Linked DNA regions of Homo sapiens. The protein of the gene in region 5 purifies or fractionates together with the protein of the main gene of each other region. This does not show direct contact. Each region holds a gene or a part of one and is shown on either strand. Other genes may lie near its edges. The genes, in order: ATP13A2, ZDHHC18, ABCD4, EPHX1, PCDHGC4, SNX14 and SC5D.

What was found.
Region 1: the proteins of PCDHGC4 (region 5) and ATP13A2 purify together in Homo sapiens (affinity purification with mass spectrometry; one large-scale study listed by BioGRID and IntAct). This does not show direct contact.
Region 2: the proteins of PCDHGC4 (region 5) and ZDHHC18 purify together in Homo sapiens (affinity purification with mass spectrometry; one large-scale study listed by BioGRID and IntAct). This does not show direct contact.
Region 3: the proteins of PCDHGC4 (region 5) and ABCD4 purify together in Homo sapiens (affinity purification with mass spectrometry; one large-scale study listed by BioGRID and IntAct). This does not show direct contact.
Region 4: the proteins of PCDHGC4 (region 5) and EPHX1 purify together in Homo sapiens (affinity purification with mass spectrometry; one large-scale study listed by BioGRID and IntAct). This does not show direct contact.
Region 6: the proteins of PCDHGC4 (region 5) and SNX14 purify together in Homo sapiens (affinity purification with mass spectrometry; one large-scale study listed by BioGRID and IntAct). This does not show direct contact.
Region 7: the proteins of PCDHGC4 (region 5) and SC5D purify together in Homo sapiens (affinity purification with mass spectrometry; one large-scale study listed by BioGRID and IntAct). This does not show direct contact.

The regions. Positions count from the first base shown.
Region 1 is NC_000001.11:16,998,429-17,001,928, reverse strand, and holds part of ATP13A2 (polyamine-transporting ATPase 13A2), read left to right. Parts: intron 1-1,394; coding exon 1,395-1,529; intron 1,530-1,616; coding exon 1,617-1,683; intron 1,684-1,786; coding exon 1,787-1,918; intron 1,919-3,500. UniProt on the Homo sapiens protein: ATPase which acts as a lysosomal polyamine exporter with high affinity for spermine. Also stimulates cellular uptake of polyamines and protects against polyamine toxicity.
Region 2 is NC_000001.11:26,825,486-26,829,487, reverse strand, and holds the start of ZDHHC18 (palmitoyltransferase ZDHHC18), read right to left. Parts: upstream 2,801-4,002; 5' UTR 2,684-2,800; coding exon 2,349-2,683; intron 1-2,348. UniProt on the Homo sapiens protein: Palmitoyltransferase that catalyzes the addition of palmitate onto various protein substrates, such as CGAS, HRAS and LCK. Acts as a negative regulator of the cGAS-STING pathway be mediating palmitoylation and inactivation of CGAS.
Region 3 is NC_000014.9:74,289,435-74,292,934, forward strand, and holds part of ABCD4 (lysosomal cobalamin transporter ABCD4), read right to left. Parts: intron 3,436-3,500; coding exon 3,314-3,435; intron 3,209-3,313; coding exon 3,117-3,208; intron 2,943-3,116; coding exon 2,853-2,942; intron 1,066-2,852; coding exon 857-1,065; intron 685-856; coding exon 593-684; intron 86-592; coding exon 49-85; intron 1-48. UniProt on the Homo sapiens protein: Lysosomal membrane protein that transports cobalamin (Vitamin B12) from the lysosomal lumen to the cytosol in an ATP-dependent manner. Targeted by LMBRD1 lysosomal chaperone from the endoplasmic reticulum to the lysosomal membrane.
Region 4 is NC_000001.11:225,841,124-225,843,593, forward strand, and holds part of EPHX1 (epoxide hydrolase 1), read left to right. Parts: exon of another isoform or gene 1-64; intron 65-1,242; coding exon 1,243-1,351; intron 1,352-2,470. UniProt on the Homo sapiens protein: Biotransformation enzyme that catalyzes the hydrolysis of arene and aliphatic epoxides to less reactive and more water soluble dihydrodiols by the trans addition of water.
Region 5 is NC_000005.10:141,483,678-141,487,829, forward strand, and holds the start of PCDHGC4 (protocadherin gamma-C4 isoform 1 precursor), read left to right. Parts: upstream 1-1,352; 5' UTR 1,353-1,496; coding exon 1,497-3,938; coding exon of another isoform or gene 3,939-4,112; intron 4,113-4,152. UniProt on the Homo sapiens protein: Potential calcium-dependent cell-adhesion protein. May be involved in the establishment and maintenance of specific neuronal connections in the brain.
Region 6 is NC_000006.12:85,513,859-85,517,358, forward strand, and holds part of SNX14 (sorting nexin-14), read right to left. Parts: intron 772-3,500; coding exon 648-771; intron 377-647; coding exon 212-376; intron 38-211; coding exon 1-37. UniProt on the Homo sapiens protein: Plays a role in maintaining normal neuronal excitability and synaptic transmission. May be involved in several stages of intracellular trafficking. Required for autophagosome clearance, possibly by mediating the fusion of lysosomes with autophagosomes.
Region 7 is NC_000011.10:121,309,771-121,313,910, forward strand, and holds the end of SC5D (lathosterol oxidase), read left to right. Parts: 3' UTR 1-3,640; downstream 3,641-4,140. UniProt on the Homo sapiens protein: Catalyzes the penultimate step of the biosynthesis of cholesterol, the dehydrogenation of lathosterol into 7-dehydrocholesterol (7-DHC).

The DNA.
Region 1 (3,500 bases), on a different chromosome or scaffold from region 5:
TGTCCCCTTCTCCATAGTGGATCGTCATCTCAGAACCTGCCGCAGTCAGCCTAGCCAGAGAGACCAGGTCCAGGAATTGGAGGTTCTGCCCAAGGCTTGGGTCACAGATTGGGGCCCCACTCATAGGGATTGGAGGCCAAGAGGCAAATCCACGCAGCCTGAGCATCTATGGGGTCCCCAGAGACACGCCCTAGAGCCTGGGTCCTCTCTGTGCGTCCTCCACTTTCATGCTCCCAACAGTCCCGTGGGTTGGGCCTGGGACTGCACTGTTCACACCTGAGAAATCCAAGCTTCAGTTGGAGGCTGTGACATGGCCAAGGTCACACAGGGACAAAGAGAAGCCAGTGACCTGGACACAACTAGAATAAAGTGTGAACATCCCAGCCCTCTGATCGGGGGCAGGCACCATGAAAGAGATCTTTGAGTCTGGCCCCATAGAAATCAGTCTGTCACTTAGAAGCTATGTGGTTTTTTGTTTTTTGTTTGTTGTTTTTTTTTTTGAGACAGAGTTTTGCTCTTGTTGCCCAGGCTGGAGTGCAATGGCGTGATCTCGGCTCACTGCGATGTCCACCTCCTGGGTTCAAGTGATTCTCCTGCCTGAGCCTCCTACATAGCTGGGACTACAGGCGCCTGCCACCACGCCCAGCTAATTTTTTTTTTTTTTTGTATTTTTAGTAGATACGGGGATTCACTATGTTGGCTAGGCTGGTCTCAAACTCCTGACCTCAGATGACCCACCTGCCTCGGCCTTGCAAAGTGCTGGGATTATAGGCATGAGCCACCGCACCTGGCTGGAACTATGTGGTTTTAGGCCAGTGGCTTCACCTGTCCATGCCTTGGTTTCCTCATCTGTAGAATGGAGCTAATGGTGGTACCGGCCTTGTAGAATTGTCATTGCCATTGTATGACACTTAGATAAAGCACTTGGCGTGTAGTGGGGGTTCAGTAAATACCCTTATCCTATTTATTTATTTGTTTATTTTTTTTGAGACAGGGTCTCCCTCTGTCACTCAGGCTGGAGTGCAGTGGCGCGATCTCAGCTCACTGCACCCTCCACCTCCCCAGCTTAAGTGATCCTCCCACCTCAGCCTCCTGAGTAGCTGGGAGCGTAGGCACAGGCCACCCCATCAGGCTAATTTTTGTATTTTTTGTAGATATGGGGTTTCGCCATGTTGCCCAGGCTGGTCATAAACCCTTGTCCTCTTTAGAGCGGAGAAACTGAGGGCCCTGGGGATGTCTGGTTGGGTGGGGATGGGATTGACCAGGAGAAAGGCCTGGCTCCAGTCCTTTGGCAGCCACTGGGCCCTCTGCTCCCATGGGCACAGGAGACCCAGCCTGTGGCTGGGCTGCCCTGGGGGACGCGGCCCTGACGCTGCCTCCCGCCCCTCCCCCAGGCACTGAACCCCTACTATGGGTTCCAGGCCTTCAGCATCGCGCTGTGGCTGGCTGACCACTACTACTGGTACGCCCTGTGCATCTTCCTCATTTCCTCCATCTCCATCTGCCTGTCGCTGTACAAGACCAGAAAGGTGAGTGCCATAAGGTGGGTGGGGACGGGACAGGTGGGTCCCCAGGGGCCCCCACCCACTCACGGCCCTCTTGTCCCCTGCCCACAGCAAAGCCAGACTCTAAGGGACATGGTCAAGTTGTCCATGCGGGTGTGCGTGTGCCGGCCAGGGGGAGGTGAGGAGCTAGGGCCCAGGGGGCGGGGGCAGGAGTGGGAGGGTGGGGGGGCATGGCTGGGGCTGGCCCCACCTAGCTGAGCTCCTCTCCTGCCTGCCTGCAGAGGAAGAGTGGGTGGACTCCAGTGAGCTAGTGCCCGGAGACTGCCTGGTGCTGCCCCAGGAGGGTGGGCTGATGCCCTGTGATGCCGCCCTGGTGGCCGGCGAGTGCATGGTGAATGAGAGCTCTCTGACAGGTGAGCCCCCAGCCCCTGGCCTGCAGCTTCCTTCCTCCCCTGCCATCCAACCCTTTGCCCTGCGGCAAAAGTTTTCATTTGAGTTTCCTTTTCCTTTTTTGTTTTTTTGTGAGACGGAGTTTCACTCTGTTGTCCAGGCTGGAGTGCAGTGACATGATCTCAGCTCACTGCAGCCTCCACCCCCCAGGTTCAAGTGATTCTTGTGCCTCAGCCTCCTGAGTAGCTGGGACCACAGGTGCATACCATCACGCCCAGCTAATTTTTTATTTTTAGTAGAGATGGAGTTTCACTATGTTGCCCAGGCTGGTCTTGAACTCCTGACCTCAGGTTATCTGCCCACCTCGGCCTCCCAAGGTGCTGGGATTTCAGGCGTGTGCCAGCGCTCCGCCTCCTCTTCCTTTTTCTCTCAAGCAACAATCCCAGCTTTAGGACTTGCTAACCTCACACCCCTGGGCCGTTACCACGTATCATCTCCGTGCCTCAGTTCCTTCTTCTGTAAGATGGCTGTCAGTCACTCCTCCTGGACAGAGTTGTGCAAAGTGCTTAGGAGCGTGAGAGGTGCAGCATAAATGGCCAGCCACCCAGTGCATCTGGGCTATTTCTCCTTTTTTTTTTTTTTTTTTTTTTTTTGAGATGGAGTTTCACTCTTGTTGCCCCGGCTGGAGTACCATGGTGCGATCTCAGCTCACTGCAACCTCCACCTCCTGGGTTCAAGCGATTCTCCTGCCTTAGCCACCCAAGTACCTGGGATTACAGGTGTGCGCCACCATACCCGGCTAATTTTGTATTTTTAGTTGAGATGGGGTTTCACCACGTTGGTCAGACTGGTCTTGAACTCCTGACCTCAAGTGATCTGCCCGCCCCAGCCTCCCAAAGTGCTGGGATTACAAGCATGAACCATAGCACCTGGCTGCATCTGAGCTGTTTCTATACCAGTGCCCACCTTCAGGTCATAAAGATTCCAGATGGCACAGGAGAGTGGGAAGCCCTCTCCCAGAGTGAGAGACTGCGGTCCCCATTCACTACCCCACAGTCCCCTTCCCTTCCCCTCCCCAGGGCAGCCACTGTGAAGGGTGTGAGGTGTCTTCCACGCCTTTTTCTGCATTACGTGTGTGCACATGGGCTGATTTGCCTCTCCTTTTGTTCTGAACGTGGGATTGTATGCTGTGTATTGTTCCATACTTTGCTTTTTCTCCTGGCATCCTTCCACAAGCACGGATGGCCCCACCTCATGGCTGCATGAGAGTCCACAATACGGATGTATCGTAACTGACTCAACCGGCCCGCTCGCCATGAGTATTTAGAATGTGATTTTCCAGCCATTGCAAAGGACGCCACAGGAGCAGCTTTGTCCTGTGTCTCTTGATGTGTGCAAGTATTTCTTTCTCTGAGATGTGTTATATTTTGGTGGTAGATACTGGAGAGAGTTTACTAAAAACCACAGGATAGTGGTTTTTTTCCAGGGAAGTTTTCTGGCTGGCATTGTATTTGTATCACAAATCGTAGGCCAGGCGCAGTGGCTCGCACCTGTAATCCCAACACTTTGGCAGGCAGAGGTGGGTGGATTGCCTGAGGTGAGGAG
Region 2 (4,002 bases), on a different chromosome or scaffold from region 5:
AGTGAGCCATGAGGCCACCTGCAGGAAGGGGATTCCAAGCACTGGCCCAGAGGTAGGAGTGTGCACGGAGGATGACATGCCTGGAGGGAAGACGGGGACAGAAGACAGCAGGGGACAGAGGCCAGGGAGGATTCAGGCCTGAGTTAGAATCAAAAGGGCACTCTGGCTGTTGTGTGGGGGCGAGAAGTAAGGCAGAAGTTGGGAGCCCTGCTGGAGGCCTGTGCAACAATCCACCAAGCCAAACAAAGAAGCAAAGCCATTCATAGCAGGAAAGGCTTAGAGAGCACCTTACCTTTTCCCAGAGCAATGGGGAGCATCCAGTCCAGACCCAGGTGAGCTCTCGGCCCAAACCCAAACTCTTCTGCCAATCTACCAGCCCCCAATGAGGACAAGCGGGGACAAACTGCAACATGGTTCACGAGCTCTCCCCAAACCCAGAAGTCCTTGCTTTCTCCCTCGCTGGGGACAAAACAGTCACCAGTGAAGATACCCGGTCAACCCAGAGAAGGTCCTGCTTCTAGTTCAGAAGTTAGGCCAGATATCACACTGCAGGGTCATGTGGGTCAACCACGGCAAGTACTGCTTCCTCCTGCCTCGGCTGCAGCCCTGGGTGTGGGGACTGAGAGGGCAGCCCAGGGGATACTAGAAAAGGCATTTCCAAAACACTCATGTGGCCAGCCCAGGGAAGTGGATCTGAAACTCAGCCCAGAGCTGAGCTCTGGGCCCCCCAGAGCTTCTGCTTGTAAATCATCCCTGAACTTTTTATCCACCCTACTCAAAAAAAAGGGCAGAGTGTGTGGTTAAAGGGTAAAGGGAGAAGCTAATTTATAGGAAGTCTTCACCTTGCTTCAAGGGGAAACCCAAAGTTGCAGATACATGATCTGGCAGCTAGAAAGGGTACCTGGGGGCGGGTGTCTCTATGATAGCCTTACCATGGCCACATGCCCTTGGGAAGTGTTTTTTGATAAAGACAACACAAGTACTAATAGCAGCCAACATAGTGTGCTTGTTACTGGGCTAAAAGCTTGCATGTGTGACCTCATGCCACCCTCAGGACAACCTTACGGGGTGGGTACTATTATAAATCCCATTTTACTGATGAGGAAACTGGGGCACTGAGGGGGTGAAGTGACTGCCCTGAGGTCACGCAATTAGTGGGTGGTGGAGCTGGGATTTGAACCAGGTCTGTTAGAGTTCTTAACTACACTGTATAATTAAGAGGAACAACCACAAAGGATGGGGAGTTGGGAGGGGACAGCAGGGCTTATGAAGCAAGGGTGGGTGGGTGGGCGTGTGAGTGTGTGTGCAAGGAATCACAGTGCAGGTGGCTCAGAGGTGGGTGGAAAACTTCTAATACAAATATATGACCCTCCATCCATAAAATGGAGATTATGTGTGGGCCAATCCTGGGTCACCGGGGGATATGAAGAGGACAAAAACCTAGGGGGGCAAATATGACCTGTCACACGAAAGCACTCCGAAGTCTTTCCTGAAAAACAACAAGGCACCGCAGCTGTTGCTGATGTGGAACAGGCCAGAGGGACGTTCCAGAATGTTGAGCAGGGAAAGAAAGCCAGGTGGTCAGCAGGGGGGCCAGGGGCCTGGGAGCCGGCTGGGTGGAGGCGGGCGGGATCTGAGGGAAGGACAGGAAGCTCTGGAGAACCTAAGGAAGGTTCTGGAGAAGGAAAGGGGGCCCGAGAGGCCCAAAGATTTTGAGAAAAGATGCCTTGGGGCCTAGGGTGTGCGTGGCTGAGGGGAAGCAAAAGCGGGGTTGGTGTCTGAGACTAGAGAAAAGGAGGGGACCCTGGAGGGACCCGGAGAGGGCAGCGAGGATGACTAGGATGTTTATGGTGGGTGTGCACAGCCAAAGGACACACAAGATCTAGAAGTGGTCAGGAAGGGATACAAGGGTCAGAAAGAACTTGGGGGGTTGGCAAGAGATGGTCCAGGGATGGGTGAGCAGGAGGGGCCTGTTCAAGAAGCCCTGGGGCAGGTTCTGAGAGGGCAGCGAGGATGGGGGCCGTGGAGGGGCATGGAGGCTGGTGTTCCTGGCAGTGGCAGGCAGACAGGTGCCAGGGTGGGGTCAGGGAGAATGGAGGGGCTGGGAGGGTGGAGGGCACCAGCGCGGATGGGGTACCCAAATGGACCAAGGAGGATGGGGCATCTGGCGGGGATGGGGGTGCGCAGGGGCCAGGGGGGCAGACAAGAGGCCCGAGGAGGATCCCAAAGGGGCGGGGAGGATGAGGACCAGGGAGGCGAAGGGGAAGGCACGGAGTGCCCAGCAGGGATTGGGAAGGTGGGGTGCGCGGCAGGGGGCTGGGAGGGGGCGCCGAGGCAGCGGAACTCACTCAAAGACGAAGAAGAGGCCGGTGGTGGTGAGGATGAGCAGCAGCGTGAGCGCGAAGACGCCGCCGTGGCCGGCCAGCATGAGGCGGCCGCCGCAGTAGAAGCGATTGCGACCCGGGAACACCTCCCACTTGCGCCGTGGGCGGCGGCCGAGGCTCCCGCTCCCGCTGCCGCTGCCGCTGCCGCTGCTGCTCCAGCGCGGCGGGGCGGGGGCGGCGGGCGGCGCGGGCCCGGGGCCCGGAGTCGGGGACGCGGCGGGGCCGGGACGGCGCGCCCCCGGGGAGGCGGGCAGCGGGGCGGCCCCGGGGCTGATCTGCTGGTACTCGCAGTCCTTCATGCAGCCAGCCGCGGGCCTCGGCTCCGCGCCCCGCGGGCCGGCCGGGCCACTCCGGGACCGGGCCGAGCAGCGGAGGTGGCAGCGGCGGCGCGCGCGGCGCTCGCTCGCTCACTCACTGGGGCGGCCCCGCCATCGCTCCGCCCCCGGCCCGCCGCCACCGCCCGCCGCGGCCTCCCGCCGCAGCGCCCCCTCCGCCTGGGCCCGGGATGGCGCTTGGCCGGAGGCCCAGCTCTGACCCGCGGCGGGGCCCCGCAGGTCCCCGGCCCTCCCAGTCTCCCTTTTCCCTTCTGCACAAAGAGGGGGCCAGCAGACGCGCACTCGAGGGCTCTTTCTGTTCTGCAAGCAAGCCGTTTGTTGGGCGTCCACTGTGTACCAGGCACGGTGCCAAACGCCGAGATTCAGGTGGTGGACTTCGTGATCTACTTCTGGCAGTCTGTAATTCCCCAGGCTTCGCCCATCTCTGAGGGTCGAACTGACAGGCATTTGCAGAGGCAGGCAGGCGCGGGGAGGTGGGGCACACGATTTGCTTTGAAAGCCAGGACCTCTTCTACCTTGAAGTCCAGAGTGCCCACTGGAGGTGTGTGGCACACCCTCTGGCCTCGTTCACCAAGTTCTGTGTCCTGGGCCCAGGCCCAGATTTTCCTAGGTAGCACATAATGTAGAGGGGTCATGCCTGAGGGCCCCAGTGTTTTTTCAGGAATTCTGGGAGTATTCATTTTCTACTGCTGTGTAACAAGTTACCACAAATTTAAGGCTTAAAACAAACATTATCGGCCGGGCGCGGTGTCTCACGCCTGTAATCCCAGCACTTTGGGAGGCCGAGGTGGGTGGATCACAAGGTCGAGAGAGACCATCCTGGCCAATATGGTGAAACCCCGTCTCTACTAAAAATAAAAAATTAGCTGGGCATGGTGGCACGGCATCTATAGTCCCAGCTACTCGGGAGGCTGAGGCAGGAGAATTGCTTGAACCCAGGAGGTGGAGGTTGCAGTGAGCCGAGATTGTGCCATTGCACCCGGCCTGGTGACAGAGCAAGACTCCGTCTCAAAAAAAACAAAAAACAAACGTTATCTAACAGGTTCCAGGTCAGGAGCCAGAGAACAGCTTAGCTGGGTCCTCTGCTTAGTCTCACAAGGCTGCAATCAGGCTGCATTCTCATCTGGAGACTCAGCCAGGGAAGAATCCACTTGCAAGCCCATTTGGGTTATTGGCAGAATTAACTTCCTTGCGACTGTTTAACTGAAGAGGGCCTGGGATTTTTGCTGGGTGACTGTATAACTGAGGAGGGCCTGGGATTTTTGCTGGGTGTCTGCTGGAGG
Region 3 (3,500 bases), on a different chromosome or scaffold from region 5:
ACAACCATGACAGAAGGAGAGGACATGACCTAAGGAGGACCAGCTCACCTGAGTCGGGGTAGACCTCCTTCAGGGGATATATCACCTGAGAAAAGAAAAAAACCACACCAACCTAGGAGGGCGAGCAAAAGACGGAGCTGCACACAGCCCACCCTCCCTCCAGAACCCACTGGAACCTCCCAAGGAGGAGAGGTGGGAACGCCTGGCCTGGGTCAGATGGGAGAGGCTCTGGCCGGCAGACAGCAGGGCAAGGTCCCTACAACCTTCAGAAGTGTGTTTAGGGGGAACAGTCTGACAGCCTCCTGAGGGCAGGGGCCCCAGAATCCGACCTTGGGTGTTTGACATACGCGTGTGGTATTTGGCGTGAGTCCTTGCCCCATTTACCTGCCTCAGGAGCTGCTATGAGTAGTGGGCCCAATCCATGGATGTGAATAGAAGGTTCTTAGAGCCAGCAGTTCCCAGGCCCGGGCCACTTCACCACCTCACCTTTTGCCCTGACTCTAGGACCTGAGACTTGTCACAGTGCCAGAGGTCCCAGCTGTGGGTGGGCGGGGTTGAGGAGGGAGGAGTGAGCCCCCTGAACTAGACTGACCTGCTCCCGAAGGGTCCCGTCAGTGAAGAATGGCTTTTGTGGCAGGAATAGCACCCCATGGGGCCCAAAGTCCGTCAGCATCTGCACTGAGCCTGCAGAGCCCACAGAAACCTCCATTGTGAGATCTCCCAGAAGAGGCAACTGCCTGTCTCCTCTCTTCCTTGTTCCCCAACAGAAAAGAATGGATTCTACCACACCGTCCCCGCCTTCACCCCACCCCTAGGGCCCAGGCTGGGTCAGAGGCAGGGAGGGCCTGGCTCTCACCCCGTGTACTCGTCCAGAGGCCACCCAGAACCCGGAGCAAGGAGGTCTTGCCAGTGCCCGTGTTGCCTGTGATGAGCAGGCTCTGTCCCTCGGAGATCTTTAGGCTCAGATCCTTGATTAGGGGTTTGTCAGAGGAGGGGGCAGAGATGGAGACCCGCTCAAGGAGAAATGCTGTGTCTGCTGGCTCTGCCGCTGGCCACCCTGGGGGTCTGTGTCAGAGAAGAGAGGGGGCGTGAGGAAGATGGGCAGGGTCAGTATTGCTGTGGGGGAGGCACTGCTCCCGGGAGCCACCACCTGTGGATTATTATGGGCTGACTTGCATCCTCCCAAAATCACATGCTGAAGTCCAGCCCCCTAGTGACTCAGAATGTAACTGCATTCGGAGGCAGGGTCTTTTTTTTTTTTTTTTTTTTTGAGAGAAAGTCTTGCTGTCACCCAGGCTTGAGTGCAGTGGAGCTATCTCAGCTCACTGCAACCTCCGCCTCCTGGGTTCAAGCGATTTTCCTGTCCCAGCCTCCTGAGTAGCTGGATTACAGGTGCCCACCACCGTGCCCATATTTTTAGTAGAGACAGGGTTTCACTATGTTGGCCAGTCTGGTCTCGAACTTGTGACCTCAGGTGATCTGCCCACCTCAGCCTCCCAAAGTGGTGGGATTATAGACGTGAGCTTCCGTGCCCAGCTGGAGGCAGGGTCTTTAAAGAGATGATGTTAACATGAAGTTGTTGGGGTGGGACCCTAATCCAATATGACTGGTGTCCTCTTAAGATAGAGGTGGCAGGGGCACGCACATATAAAGGAAAGGCCACGTGAGGACACAGCAACAAGGTGGCCATCTACAAGCCAAGGAGTGGCCTAAGAAACCAACCCTGCTGACAACTTGATCGTGGACCATAAGCATCCAGAATTGTGAGGAAATTAATTTCTATTGTTTAAGCCAGCCGGTTTGTGGTTTTCTGTCATGGCAGCCTGAGCACATTAATACAGGGGTAGGGGTGGAACTTCTACTCTCTGCCTGGCTGGACAAAGCCCCTTATGGGACTGATCTTACTCAGTCTAATGCCCATGAGTCTCAAATATCATCACAGATGAGGACACTAAGAATCAGGTGGCTAAGTAACTGCCCAGGTTGCAGAGCGGTATTCAACAAATTCTAATGCTGGTGGGTCTTCATGGCATCACAGTGTGACCAGAGTACTAATAACAAGAATGGGAGTGGTTAAAGCTAAATGGTTCTGGAGTTTCTGCCTCTGCATGGATGCCTGGCTCCCCACAGAACAGCAATTCCAGTTTCCTACAGACCCTCCTTCATGCCCAGCCTCTGCACTCATGGTTGCATGAAGCTTTCATTTGGAACAGAAGCAACAGTTAAGGTATTAGCTCCTAAGAAAAGCAAGTTGAGTGTAGGCCCTGGAATTCAGACTGATTTTTGAAAGCTTATGATGTGGCCACTGTCCAAGCACTTTCCATGGATGATGATATCTAATCCCTACAACAAGTGAAGGAAGTTCATTATGACCTCCTTTTCAGACATGAAGAAACAGAACAGTTAGGTAATCTGCCCAAGGAAAGTGTGGAGATCAAGCAAATCCTGAATGCACAGAAATATTACAGATCCACGCAGACACACGGATACAGACATCTCTGGGGCTGAGTGAGGTGGGGGAACAAAGACAGACATGCCCCAAGGAAAGGGGCAGGGAGAGGAATCAGCGGGAGGAGGAAGCACAGGAAGGGGAGGACACTGCAGATTCCTGTTATCTCAGGCAGAAGGTGTGTGTACTTTGCTTCCACTGGCCGGGGAATGGTGTAAATTAACACAACAGATGCCGGAACAGCAACATCGACTGTGAACTTACATGTGCCTGGCATTCCATTTCCATTTACTCCTTACAACTCTGCTGCCCAGCTGGGAAAGGGCAGGACTCCAGGGTAACCCAAGCCAGGTGATGCCACAGCCTGCAGCCTCAACTACTGCTCTGCCAGCCCGCTACTCACGTGTCCAAGCCCCACTCGCTCTCGCCCAGGATCTCGCAGTCCTGTGACTTCAGGGACATGTCCAGAAGCGTCTCCCGAAGCTGCCCAATTCTGAACAAGAAAAGAAAATCTGAGGCAGGGTCTGGGAGCCAGGTGAAGGTGAACTCCTTTTCCTATCTCACACCCACGAGTACATGGTATGTCTCTGTTCCTTTTTTCACTCAGCCACTTCTGCCAGCAGCACACACTTTGCTCAGGAGCCAGAGGGGTGGGACACGGCCTCACCTGTGCGTGTAGCCAGCCACATCTGAGAGCGTCGTGGACAGGTCGATGAGCTGGGTGAAGCAGCTGATGAGGTAGATGCACACAAAGGCATTCTGGACAGGATGGGAAGAGGTCAAGCAGGTCTCGACTCGAGCCCACAGACACTGGGCCAAGGACAGAGAGGGACAGCATGTGGGGTGACCAAGAGGGAGTCTCACCTTGCTGACCAGGGTGCTAAGCTCTGCGGGACTCAGGTCTCCATAGACCCCGCTGAAAATGGGGATTGCGATGACAACGTAACTCAGGATGCTGCCCAGATAGTCAAAGGTGTTGATGCCGACTGTAGAAAACACATCTGTGAGACACCCAGGAACCATCCACATGCCCTACAGCGGACACAACCCT
Region 4 (2,470 bases), on a different chromosome or scaffold from region 5:
TTCTCTCCCAGGTACCACGCTCTGACTTCTGACTGAGATGGTTTTGATTGTGCCTGTTTAAGTCCTATGAATAGAATCACAGAGTATATACCCTTGAGTCTGGCTTCTTTTGCTCAATATTATGTTTGTGAGATTCATTTATGCCATTGTCCCAGCTTTATTTATTTATTTTTTCTCAAGACCCAGTCTGGCTCTGTTGCCCAGGGTAGAGTGCAGTGGTGTGATCTCAGCTCACTGCAACCTCCGCCTCCCAGGTTCAAGCAATTCTCCTGCCTCAGCCTCCCAAGTAGCTGGGATTACAGGCACCTGCCACCATGCCTGGCTAATGTTTTGTATTTTTAGTAGAGACGGGGTTTTACCATGTTGGCCAGGCTGGTCTCGAACTCCTGACCTCAGGTGATCCACCCGCCTCGGCCTCCCAAAGTGCTGGGATTACAGGTGTGAGCCACCGCACCCAGCCTGTCCCACTGTCCCAGCCTTTTTTTTTTTTTTTTTTGAGACAGAGTCTTGCTCTGTTGCCCAGGCTAGAGTGCAGTGGTACGATCTCGGCTCACTGCAACCTCCACCTCCCGGGTTCAAGCAATTTGCCTGCCTCAGCCTCCCAAGTAGCTGGGATTACAGGCATGCACCACCATGCCCTGCTAATTTTTTTGTATTTTTAATAGAGATGGGGTTTCACCATGTCAGCCAGGATAGTCTCGAACTCCTTACCGCAGGTGATCCACCTTTCTCACCCTCCCAAAGTGCTGGGATTACAGGCATGAGCCAATGCCCCCAGCCTGTTCCAGCCATTTTTAATGACTGTACAGTATTTTGGCTTATGAGTATATCAATATTTGTAACTGATCCCCTATTTTAGACTTTTTTAGGTGGCTTCTCATTTTTCATGAATCAGAGCACATAGACTGAAAAACCCCGCCTTTTTAAAAACAGCACTTCTCATTGGGACCCCACCAAATGCAGAGGCGTAGGCCCTTCAGTTTGAAGGAAGCTGAGCAGGCAGTGTGCCAGGCCCTGGGAGACAGTGGGAAGGTATCGTCCCTGTTTATCAGATGAGGATGCCGAGGCAGAGTTAAGGAAGCGAGGCATGTGAGCACCCAGGAGTTAAGGCAGGCCTGTGCTCGAACGTGGCTTCCTGCACACAGCCCCGCCCTCTGCGGCCAGTGCCACACATCACACCTGAAGCTCCAGCTCTCTGGTCCCCAGGCCTGAGTCTCTCCCTTGCTCCCCGCTCCCCGCCAGGCTCTGCTCTGAATGACTCTCCTGTGGGTCTGGCTGCCTATATTCTAGAGAAGTTTTCCACCTGGACCAATACGGAATTCCGATACCTGGAGGATGGAGGCCTGGAAAGGTGAGGCCCTGGTTTGCCCCTGCAGTCATGACCCTGGTCCCAGCAGCCAACCTCCTCACCCTCTTCATCCCCTTGTCTGGTTGCTCTGCATGGGGCACTCAGCAAATTCTATTGTTGGCTTTCTTACAAATCCTCACCCTGTGACCAACGTAGCTGCATTTTTTGGGTGAGGTGGCCTGGTGGGTTGTTCCCAGCCTCACAGTGCATGGTCAAGACTAGGATGCAGGCTCACCTGCTTGTGCTCCTTTTGCTGAACAGGCCCCTCTGGGGATTAGGGAGCCCACAGGGCAGCAGGCACCACATTATTGTCAAGAGCACCTGGGCTTTTCCTCCTGATTCCCTGGAGAGCCTGGCATCAGGGTCACGTGACTGCGTGTTCCAGGAGGGTGGTCGCAGAAAGACAGGAGGCTGTTAATCTCTCAGAGCCTTAGAGGCTGTATCCTCTACATGCCTGACTCCCAGCTCTGTGGCCTGACTCAGGCTTCACCAAGGTCAGCTCTGACCCACCCTTTCCAGGGCCCATCCCTTTATTCCTTCAGTGACACACAGGACCAGACAGTGCTGGGGATGGGAAAGACAGTAAAATGAGACTGAATCCTGCCTTGGGGGTAGGGACTCTGTCTTGGCCATGCTGTAGCCCCATCACCTAGAACAATGCCGGGTGAACAGTGGGAGAGCCCAGTACATAGATGTTGAATGAATGCGCAAAGGACTGTGAGAGTCCAGTGGAAGGAGGATTCTTTGTCTAAGCGGCAGAGAGGGGAAATGACCAGGAGAATGTATCTGATTTGGGCCTTGGAGGATAAGTAGGAGTTTGCTGGATGGAGGAGAGAAACTTAGGCAAAGAGAAAAGCAATAAAAATGCAAGGAAAGGGTGCTTGGAAAGGGTGGCTTGTCCAGAGGCTGAAGCAGGTACACTGGGGCCAGATCAAAAGCAAACTCATTCCTGCAGGCAGGTCCTCACCTCCTCCAAGAGCCTCAGCAGGGCCTTCGTCTGGGATCTGTTTCCCCTGCCCTACATTCAGCAGGACACAGGGGTTGATGGAGCTTCTGCAAGACCACCTTGGCAGGGGGTCTGGCCTGCTCCTTGCACACGGATACCTGGAGCAAGATGTGAGG
Region 5 (4,152 bases):
ACAGAAAGCCAGATTCCTCTTTTTGACACCAGAATATTGGTTCCCACCATAGTCAAAAGGATATTCCTGAGGATCGAGGCTTGGAAAAATATTGGGGAAGGATAAGAACTCCAGTTGTTGCTGCTTTTTTTGGCAGCCAGTGTAACCTAGGTAAGGACTTGGTTGAATTAAGAAATTTCATGTCCAGATCAGGATGGATTTTTCTATTTCTCTGAGCTCTGGTGTGTTTCCCACTCAGATTGCAGGTCGTAGGTACCTACGGTGTGAATTGTGTTGTGTTTCTGTGCTTGTGCAAGGGAGTAGCTAGGTTGCTGGGAGGTCTGGATGAGGGTGGGGGTGGGGTGAGATCAAGTCTCCAGCTCCAAGAGGTCCCCTGGGGCTAAGTGAAAAGCTTGCTCTTTTGAAATGGTCTTCGTTGGTAATTAACAAAAGATCAAGAATACCTTGGTGTCAGATAAAGGGAATTTGTAGGCACAATGCTGTTGGTAGCTGATCTCAATCATTCAAGGAAGCTATTAAATCTATGAACATTAGCATTCTGCCAGGTAAAGAGATCTGGTCCTTAGCACCTCCCAGACACACTGATTCTTTACTGTTTTGAAACATCTCCCTCTCCTGGCTTCCTCCACCCCGCTTCCATACTGTCCTTGAAATCAATGAATGGTAATTTAGTGTATCTAGTGTATCACTAGCAAATGTCTGAATAAGAAAGGTTTGGTTTCCGCTGTGTCTCCTGTTACAATGAGAACATGTACTGCATAAATTTAATTGGCTACGTTAATGTGTAAGCCTTTTCTGCAAAGAGATGGATCCGTTTCTGAATATTCTGCAGAAGGGCAGAGTTTTGAGTATATGGCAGTGGTTCTAATTAGCAGTTGCTCCAATACAATCAGACTGAGACGGAAGCTACTCATTTAGAATACTGGTTGATGACAACACTGGCTTGAACAAAGTGACCACTCTCCAATGGCTACTCTCCCTCTCAGTGGGCCGCAGGTTGCTAGGGCTCAGGCTGTGGCTGTTTTCCCCGCCGAAAAGGGGCGGGGTCAGTCGGTGTGTTAGGAAAAAAAATGTATATATATATATATGTTGTCTGCCTCCCCACAGAGATAACAACCCGTGGAAAAACATGCCGTTGAGCGGGAGGAAGGCGAAAAGATAGGCTGGGTTTTTTGGGGGGTGGGGGAGCGTGGAGGATAGGGTGGGCTTTTTCCCCTCCAATGCTGCGACGCATTAACCCTGCTGCTGTTGGGACGTTCTCTGCTCAGCCTATTGGCTGAGCCCGGGAGCCGCTGTCTGCCAATCGGGTGGTGAAAGGCAGACAAATCTACCCCGCCACCAGCAAAAACGGCGCGTAACCCTTGCGGCGCCGGCCGAACCGCGCCAGAGCTGGCGCGGGGAAAGGGAGATAGGTGTCTCCAGCTGCTGTGGCTGTTTGGGGCGGGTCGGCTTCATCCGCGTCTCAGGAGCAAGTAGAGAATTAGCGGGCGGCAGCAATGCTCCGCAAGGTGAGAAGCTGGACAGAAATCTGGCGGTGGGCTACCCTTTTGTTCCTCTTTTACCACCTGGGTTACGTTTGTGGGCAGATCCGCTACCCGGTCCCAGAGGAGTCACAGGAAGGGACTTTTGTAGGGAATGTCGCTCAAGATTTCCTGCTGGATACGGACAGTCTGTCAGCTCGCAGGCTGCAGGTCGCTGGAGAGGTGAACCAAAGACACTTCCGTGTGGATTTGGACAGCGGAGCCCTGCTCATCAAGAACCCAATCGACCGAGAGGCACTGTGTGGGCTCAGTGCCAGCTGCATCGTGCCCCTGGAGTTTGTCACCGAAGGTCCTTTGGAAATGTACCGAGCAGAGGTAGAGATCGTAGATGTGAATGATCACGCCCCCCGTTTTCCGCGGCAGCAGCTGGACTTGGAAATTGGGGAGGCAGCTCCTCCAGGACAGCGTTTCCCGTTGGAAAAGGCTCAGGATGCAGATGTGGGGAGCAATTCGATTAGCAGCTATAGGCTGAGCTCCAATGAACACTTTGCACTGGATGTGAAGAAGCGCAGCGACGGCAGCCTGGTCCCAGAGCTGCTCCTGGAGAAGCCTTTGGATCGAGAGAAGCAATCGGACTACCGCCTGGTGCTGACTGCTGTCGATGGAGGGAACCCGCCGAGATCTGGCACCGCAGAGCTCCGGGTATCCGTGCTGGACGTAAACGACAACGCCCCAGCCTTCCAGCAATCCAGCTACAGGATTAGTGTGTTGGAGAGCGCACCAGCGGGCATGGTGCTCATCCAGCTCAATGCCTCAGACCCGGACCTGGGTCCCAGTGGTAACGTCACCTTTTATTTCAGTGGTCATACCCCTGATCGTGTAAGAAACCTCTTTAGCCTGCACCCCACTACTGGAAAGCTTACTCTTTTGGGGCCCCTAGACTTTGAGAGTGAGAATTACTATGAATTTGATGTGCGGGCTCGCGATGGGGGTTCTCCAGCCATGGAGCAACATTGCAGCCTTCGAGTGGATCTGCTGGACGTAAATGACAATGCCCCTTACATCACAGTGACCTCAGAGCTTGGAACCCTCCCCGAGAGTGCAGAACCTGGCACTGTGGTGGCACTTATCAGTGTGCAGGATCCAGACTCAGGGTCAAACGGAGATGTGAGCCTCCGCATTCCTGACCACTTGCCATTTGCCCTCAAGTCTGCCTTCAGGAACCAGTTCTCCCTGGTGACTGCTGGACCCTTGGATCGAGAGGCCAAATCTAGCTATGACATCATGGTCACTGCTTCTGATGCTGGGAACCCTCCTCTCAGTACCCACAGAACTATTTTCCTCAATATTTCAGATGTGAATGATAATCCACCCTCTTTCTTTCAGAGGTCACATGAGGTGTTTGTTCCTGAGAACAATCGCCCAGGGGACCTGCTTTGCTCCCTTGCAGCCTCTGACCCAGACTCTGGCTTGAATGCGCTTATCTCCTACTCACTCCTGGAGCCCAGGAATCGAGATGTATCAGCTTCCTCTTTCATCTCTCTGAACCCCCAGACAGGAGCTGTTCATGCTACTCGATCCTTTGACTATGAGCAAACCCAGACACTGCAGTTTGAGGTGCAGGCCCGGGATCGGGGCAACCCACCCCTTAGCAGCACTGTAACAGTTCGTCTATTTGTGCTGGACCTCAATGACAATGCTCCAGCTGTGCTCCGTCCTCGGGCCCGGCCTGGTTCCTTATGTCCCCAAGCACTGCCTCCATCAGTTGGTGCTGGCCACCTAATCACAAAGGTGACTGCTGTGGACTTGGATTCAGGTTACAATGCTTGGGTTTCCTATCAGCTCCTGGAGGCCCCAGATCCCAGCCTGTTTGCAGTCTCTCGATATGCTGGGGAGGTGCGGACGGCTGTTCCTATCCCAGCTGACCTCCCACCACAGAAGCTGGTCATTGTGGTAAAGGATAGTGGTAGTCCACCACTCTCTACCTCTGTTACTCTCTTAGTGTCCTTAGAGGAAGACACTCATCCAGTTGTCCCAGATCTTCGAGAATCTTCAGCTCCAAGGGAAGGAGAATCTCGTCTAACCCTCTACTTGGCTGTGTCCCTAGTGGCAATTTGCTTTGTCTCCTTTGGCTCATTCGTGGCACTACTCTCTAAGTGTCTTCGTGGGGCAGCCTGTGGAGTCACATGCTTTCCTGCTGGCACCTGTGCCTGTCTCACCAGATCTCGAAGGAGGGAGGGGCTTCCCCCTTCCAATGGGATCCTCCGAATCCAGCTAGGGTCAGATGACCCTATCAAGTTTGTTGATGTGGGAGGCCACTCTCATGGCTGTACACCCTTGGCTTCTGCACCCACTCGGAGTGATAGCTTCATGATGGTGAAGTCACCCAGTGCACCTATGGCAGGGGAGCCTGTTCGCCCAAGCTGCCCACCCTCTGATCTTCTCTATGGGCTAGAGGTGAGACCTTTGCAGGCTCAACAAATGCTTGAGGGTTATTCTGATCCAGGCATATGGCTAGGCCATGTCCTAGAGAGTACTGGCCTCTCAGTAAGTGCCCATAGTGATGTCACCATTTTTGTAAGAGGTAACTATGTGGTAGACGCTGTGCTTTGTAACTGTTTCGTGAATTAACCAGAGTTGTCACAGTTTAGCATTGGGGGCGGGTCATGCC
Region 6 (3,500 bases), on a different chromosome or scaffold from region 5:
AGAGAGCGAGGTTCAGTGTTTTCACAGAATATAGCATCTAAAAAAGAGTAAAAAGAAATATTTCTGGAATTTTCATCTATTTATACACAAAGGATTTCCTCATAGTAGAAATACTAATAAACCAAAGCAAAACAAGATTTCTTCCTCTTTAGATTCAATTAAAATCATAGAGTACACAAAATATGAAACAAACACATTAGAAAATACAAACCTCTGAGAAGTGTTATGAGTGAGACCAAACGGTGCTCCTGAAATAGCTGTTCTAGTTTACACTGAAGATAGTAATCAGTATACATTTCCAGGGTGTTTTTAAAGAGGATTCGAGTTCCCATTAAGAGATGATGAAGCCAGTCAGGAACCTGGAAAACTACCCGTCCTGAGAAAGGATCAAATGGGATACCTCATTGTTCCAGATGAATTGGTATTTTTGAAATTTGCCAATGTAGAAAACACAAATGACCATGGTCAATATTTTATTTGTAAACACTAGCAACTTTAATATGATCAAGGCCAATCGTATTGAATTATTATAAAAGGTATCTTCAATTAAAAAGACAGTTATGATGGGGCAATACTCAAGATCATTATTTGCATCACAGAAGAAGTAAGATGAATGAAAAACAAGTCTTAAACCACTTAGATCTTACCTACATACATCAGGTAATCATAGACTCCTTCTACAGTCATCACCTCCATAAAATAATTCTGATTTTGCTTTCTCTCTGTATTTTCAGCACGGTTTGCATTATTTTTAAACAGATCATTGAAAAGCTAAAATAAAAGTTGGAATAATAAAGAGATATATAGTTTATTACATCTGCTGACGATAATCAATAAGGATTAAGTGTCACACAGCAAAGGCATTTAAACTTTTTCCAATCAAAACAGAATATTAGATAGGTTAATATATGCTTCTAAAATTCCCCATTTATGCCCCGAATTGCAATAAAAAATACATGTTCCCCAAAAATATTACATAAAAACTAAAATATTCATTTTAGTTACAGTAGATAATTCATTATCCATTAAAGACCCCTTTGTTTTTACATACCACAAAAGCAAAGTAACATAAAAAGATGTACAAATATATTATTGATAGCTAACTTTAAAACTAACATGATTTAGGCCAGGCGCAGTGGCTCACGCCTGTAATCTCAGCACTTTGGAAGACGGAGGCAGGCAGATCACCTGAGCTCGCAAGTTTGAAATCGGCTTGTCCAACATGGTGAAACCCCATCTCTACTAAAAATACAAAAAAATTAGCCAGGTGTAGTGATGCGTGCCTGTAGTCCCAGCTACTTGGGAGACTGAGGCAGGAGAATAGTTTGAACCTGGGAGCCAGAGGTAACAGTGAGCCGAAATCGTGCCACTGCACTCCAGCCTGGGTGACAGAGCAAGACCGTCAAAAAAAAAAAAAAAAAAAAAAAAACACTAACATGATTTAAAGATTATAAATCACTATAAGTAGAGGTAAAAATCCAGCGTTAGGTGAAATTTATTTGGACAATATTCAAAGCCCACAAAGGCCTAATCAATGTTGGGGTGGGGGGGAACTAAAACAAGATATTAAGAATTAATGGTTGCAGTGAGCCAGAGATTGCACCACTGCACTCCAGCCTGGGTGACAGAGTGAGACTCTGTGAAAAGGGAGAAAGAGGGGAGGGGAGAGGGAAGAGAAGTAAGGAGACTGTGGAGGAAAGTATATTCGATTTTACCTGAAGATGAATTTTTTAAAAGCCTCCTAGAAAAGTATCCTGAGAACAAAGACCATATATTCTATTGGCTCTTATGTCAGATATTATTAACACAGACACATACTTAAAACATTTTTCCCCAACCCAAAAAATAGGAAAAGGGCTCTCCCTTCTGATATATTATTCCCTCTACTCTTTTAAATTTTCAGTGTAATTTTTTTTTTCACTAAAAAACAGTGATATTATATAGTAAGTCTGGAAAACGGGAAAAACAACTCAATTTTGTTTTCCCTCTGTATTTTCAGCACGGTTTGCATTATTTTTAAGCAGAAATCTAAAATAAAAGTTGAAATAATAAAGAGATATACAGTTTATTACATCTGTTGACAATAATCACTAAGGCTAAATAAAGTGACACAGAGCAAAGGGGCATTTAAACTTTTAAATTAAAACTCAACCACCTAATAGTGTTACTATTAAACTTTTGTATATTAACTTGTACTCTCTATATACATAGCCACAAATCAATGAGGTTCAAAAAATATCACATCCTACTTTTTCATTTAGCACCATATCAAATATCTTTATGTTGCTTTATAGTTTTCATAAGCACAATTTCATCTGCTGCAAAACACTCCTTGAATAGATGTTCCTTAAAATAATCATTCCTACAATGTTAGAATTTCATGTTGTTTCCAATTTTTCACTTATGTAAACAATATTTTAATAAACACCTTTACATGTTATAAGCTCTTCTCTTATTTTTCTCCCTGACAAATTCCTAGCATTCCTAGCATGAGTTCAATAGGTTATATTTTGTAACCTTCATGACTCATGAAGTAATAAACCTGAAGAATTTTGTAATTGTTAAAGAAATTAAATTGGTTATAAAAAATCTTCCTACAAACAAAACTGGAGGCCTAGATGACTTTACCAACTCTATCAAATATTTATAAAAAGTCTACCAAAAATAAAAAATGCTAATAAAACTTTGATACCAAAACCTAACAAGGACAGAATGAGAAAGAAAAATTATAGGCTATATTCTACCCATAAACATGAATGTAAACTTCCTTAATCTTTTTTTTTTTTTTTTTTTTTTGGAGACAGAGTCTTGCTCTGTCCCCCAGGCTGAAGTGCAGTGGCGCGATCTCAGCTCACTGCAACCTCCACCTCCCAGGTTCAAGCGACTCTCCTGCCTCGGCCTCCCGAGTAGCTAGGATTACAGGCACCCACCACCACGCTTGACTAATTTTTGTATTTTCAGTAGAGGCAGGGTTTCACCAAGGTGGCCAGGCTGGTCTCAAACTCCTGACCTCAAGTGATCCATCCACCTTGGCCTCCCGAAGTGCTGGGATTACAGATGTGAGCCACTGCACCTGGCAACTTCCTTAATCTTATAAAGGTTATCTATTAATACAAAAAGAGCTACACCACACTATTCGATGGTGAAATAATTAAACAATTTCCTTTCTATATAGCAGTCCTAGTCAGGAATAAAACAAAACTGCAATCATCTGCAACAATTGTGTCAATATAAAAGAATTACCAGATATTACTAAAACTAATGTTAAGTCTAGCAAGACGACTAAATAAAAATTTTCTATCTATATATACAAGTTATAAAATGAAAACATTAATAATATTAAAGATACCATTCAGAGTATTAACAAAAATAAAAGATAGAGGTCCTCTGAGCTTCCATAGCTCCCCATGCTGGGCACTACACCTTGGCACTAAACACCTTCTTGAGGACAAGGAATGTATCCTTATATTCCCAGTGCCTAGCACTCAATCGTAGGCATG
Region 7 (4,140 bases), on a different chromosome or scaffold from region 5:
GTACTGCCACATTCTCCTACTTTCTATTAGAGGAAGTCAGAGAATATTTATGGAAGTGAGGACCCAAATTACCTTCTACAGATGACTTTTATAGTTACAGGACAGAAAGTGAAAATCAAGGTTACGTTTTCTACTTTTGTGGTAGAAATTGAGAAGTGGGTGGATATGGTTCGAGAAGACCTTTCAGAAACACAGAGACTGAGTCTTTGTCTTCCATGCTGTCTCTGCAGTACTGAGTGAATTTCCTTATACCCTTGTATCATGTTTTCCTCCCATCTTCTAGAAGCTGGGGACAGATTTGGAAGAGAATTACACAAGTTCAGTTTTTTGATACATGGATTTTACAGTGCATGCAGGTTATTTATGTAGAGAGGAGGTCTGGGAGAAAGATGGAAACTAGGGAGATGACTGAGAACAAAGATATTTGGGATTAACACAGATAGAAGAAAAGTTTGAAACCATGAGATTGTCACAGCATGAAAAAAGATATTCAAAGACACTAACCAACTTGAGGGGTGCAGTGGTCTGAATGTGTCCTCCAAAATTCAAATGTGGAAATGTATTTGCCAGTGAGATAGTATGTAGAGGTGGGGCCTTGAGGAAGTGATTAAGTCATGAGGGCTCTGGGATTAATGACTTAAAAAGAGGTGTGAGGCAGCTGTTCAGCCCTTCTGTCTCCTGTCCCTTTTTTTTTTTTTTTTTTTGAGATGGAGTCTTGCTCTGTTGCCCCAGGCTGGAGTGCAGTGGCGTGATCTTGGTTCACTGCAAGCTCCACCTCCCGGGTTCACGCCATTCTCCTGCCTCAGCCTCCCGAGTAGCTGGGACTACAGGTGCCCGCCACCACCACGCCCGGCTAATTTTTTATATTTTTAGTAGAGATGGGGTTTCACCGTGTTAGCCAGGATGGTCTTGATCTCCTGACCTCATGATCTGCCTGCCTCGGCCTCCCAAAGTGCTGGGATTATAGGTGTGAGCCACCATGCCCAGCCCCTTCTGTCCCTTCTAACGTGAGGACCCAGCAACAAGGTACCATCTTGAAAGCAGCAACTGGGGACTCAGCAGACACCAAACCAACTGGTGCTTAACCGTGACTTCCCAGCCTCCAGAGCTGTAAGAAAATAAATTTCTATTATTTATAGATTACCCAGTTGAAGATACTTTGTTAAGGCAGTACAAATGGACTAAGACAAGGGGGAAGAAATTTGCATTCCTGATCTTCCCAACTTCTTCAAATTCACAACACTTGAATGACAGTCTTATTTCAGCACTTACTGCTATCACCTATTACTTTTATGTGTGTCTTACCTATTTGAGATGCCAGATTCCTTGGAAGTAGAGACCGTGTCTGAATCATCATTGTATTAAACCACTCATCCTTAACAAATGCCCAAGCCATGGTTAAAGTTCAATAAATACTTTGTTGAATTTATTAATAAAATGGCAGAAATGTCATTCTCTTCCATATATGTTTAATAAATCCCTGATAGGTGCTAAGCACTGCACTAGGTAAAAATTCTCTTCTGATGCTGTCTTTTTGGCCAACCATTTTTTTATCATTTATTCATTAGCTGACATTTGCTAAGTGCTTTGGAGGGGTCAAAAGGGGAAGTAATGAGAAATCAAAGATGGTCCCTACATCAAGGATAAACTATCTTTTTTTAGTCACTCAAAGTCATAACCCTTTGGAAACAAAACCCACCAGTACCCCAGATTTTGACCACAGATGAATCAGTACTACAAGGACTGGTTAGAGGGTTGAATGAATCTGTATACTCAGCACTTAACACAGCACTCTGGGTAAAAGAAAAAAGATCCTCAAAGATATTAGTTGGTTACATCAAGAAAGGACAAACTTAGGTTAATCTATAACTTCATCTCAGAGGAACAGGAACTTTGGAGATAAACAGGGCTCTGCCACTTGCAAGTTGCACCATCCCTGGTTTCTCCATCTGTAAATTGATTAAAACACTGCCTATCTAATAAGATTAAATAAGTTAGAAGCATTCAGTTAAATGTCAACTGAAACTATTGTTCATGTAAATTGTGCTTGATGCTTTTTCTTTCTAGATTCAATGATTATTGTCATTTTACCTCCATAGGCCCTCAATAGAAATCAGTTGCAGAGGGCAGAAGCCTAGATATTTTCACCTTAAAATTGGAGGGTGAAAGACATTGAGGTGAAGTAGAGATAGAGGGTACACAGAAAAATCGTATAAGTAAAACTAACATCGTTAACATTATTTACTGTAAGTTATCTTTGTAAGAGTGGTAAAATACATTGTGTTGTTAAATAATTTCATTTAAAAAATGCATCACTTTGTGTGTTTTTATATTGCTAAAACCATAAGGCCAGTCTACAAGGTTTGTAGATAAAATAGAAACATACCTTCCTTGAAAAGCAGAATAAATTTTTTAAAGGCAGGAAGGAAGTGTTTGAACCATGTGTCAACAAGCTTTACTGTCAAAGCAGGCTTTTGGTATGGGAAGAAAAATACTTATAAATACTTGTTTTAATATTTGCTTTATTAAAATACATTTAAAATACAGCATTTTTAAATCTCTAAGCTCAACTTGAAGATATAAGAACAGTAAATTTGATAAAAATGAGAAATTACATTCCCATTTCTTTAACAATTTGTAAATTCCAATTATCCTGAACATTTAATACCATTTACATATTTTATTAATCACATTTTCTTAAACATTTGATAAGAGATTTAATATTTTGATCCAACTACCAAAAAAGCAGACTTGTGTACTTGACAGATTTTTCTAAACACTTCACAACTCACGATTCAAACAAAGACAAAATAGCATATCAAAAGTTAATCACTCAGTTGGAAAGCACTCATACCATAGGCTTTTATTCATTTCTTGAATAATTTTGTTATATCTTCCTCTTTTAGGCTGCAATGAGCTATAATTGCACTACTGCACTCCACGCTGGGTGACAGAGCAAGACCCTATCTCTAAAAATAAAAAAGTATATATATATAAAAATATCTTCCTCTATTATAATTTAACTCATTAAGCCATTTATTTAGATGTAAACTTGCCCCCCTGACATGTGGTATGAAACAAATAGAAACCTAGAAATTTAGTGCATATTCAAATATTAAGACAGACACTGGTGTGGTGACTTTTGTCTGTCGCTTCATTGGGACGTTTTTTCTTTCTGATCAACTTAATGAAATTATAATTTACTATAATTAAGTGTAGCCATTTTTACTGTAGAGTTCAATGATCTTTGATGAACGTGTACACCCATGTAACCACCACCCCCAATCAAAGTAAAGAACATTTTCTTACCAGAATAAATTTCCTCTCCGTTTGCAGTCATTCTCCCCAGCCCTAGGTCACCACTGATCCACCTTCTGTTACTGGAAGGTTAGTTTTCTTCCCTGATTTAGAATTTCATATAAATTAAATCAGATAGTATATACTCTTGTGTTTAGTTTCTTTAGCTTAACATGTTTAGAGATATTTGCTGTTGCCTGTGTCTGTAGCTTTTTGTTTTCATTGCTGAATAGTATTTCATTGTAATATACCACAGTTGGTTTATGTATTTGCTGATGAATATTTGTGTTATTTCCAGCGTGGGATTATTATGAATAAAGTTGCTACAAACATTTGTATACAAGTCTTTGTGTGGCTATATGTTGTTATTTCTCGTTGGTAAATATCTATTAGATTTGCTGGGTCATAGGGAAGAGATATATATGTATACGTTTAATTTTATAAAACACTGTGAAACTATTTTCCAAAGGGTTGTACCATTTTACCCTCCTGCTCCCAATGATGAGAATTCCATTTTTCCCGCATGTTCACTAACACTTAGTATCGTCAGTCCTTATTTGTAACCATTCTAGTGGGTGTGAGGTAGTGTCCCACTGTGGCTTAATTTGCATTTTCCTGTGACTAATGATGTTAAGCACCTTTTCTCCTGCTTTTTTTTTTTTTCTTTTTCAAACTTTTTATATCTTTTGTAAAGTATCTGTTTAAATCTTTGGCCATTTTAAAAATTAGGTTGTTTTGGTGTTATTGACTTATAAGATTTTGTATATATTGACAAAAATTCTTTGTTAGATGTATGTATTACCAATATTTACTCCAATTTAGCTTGTCTTTTCATTTCCTTAC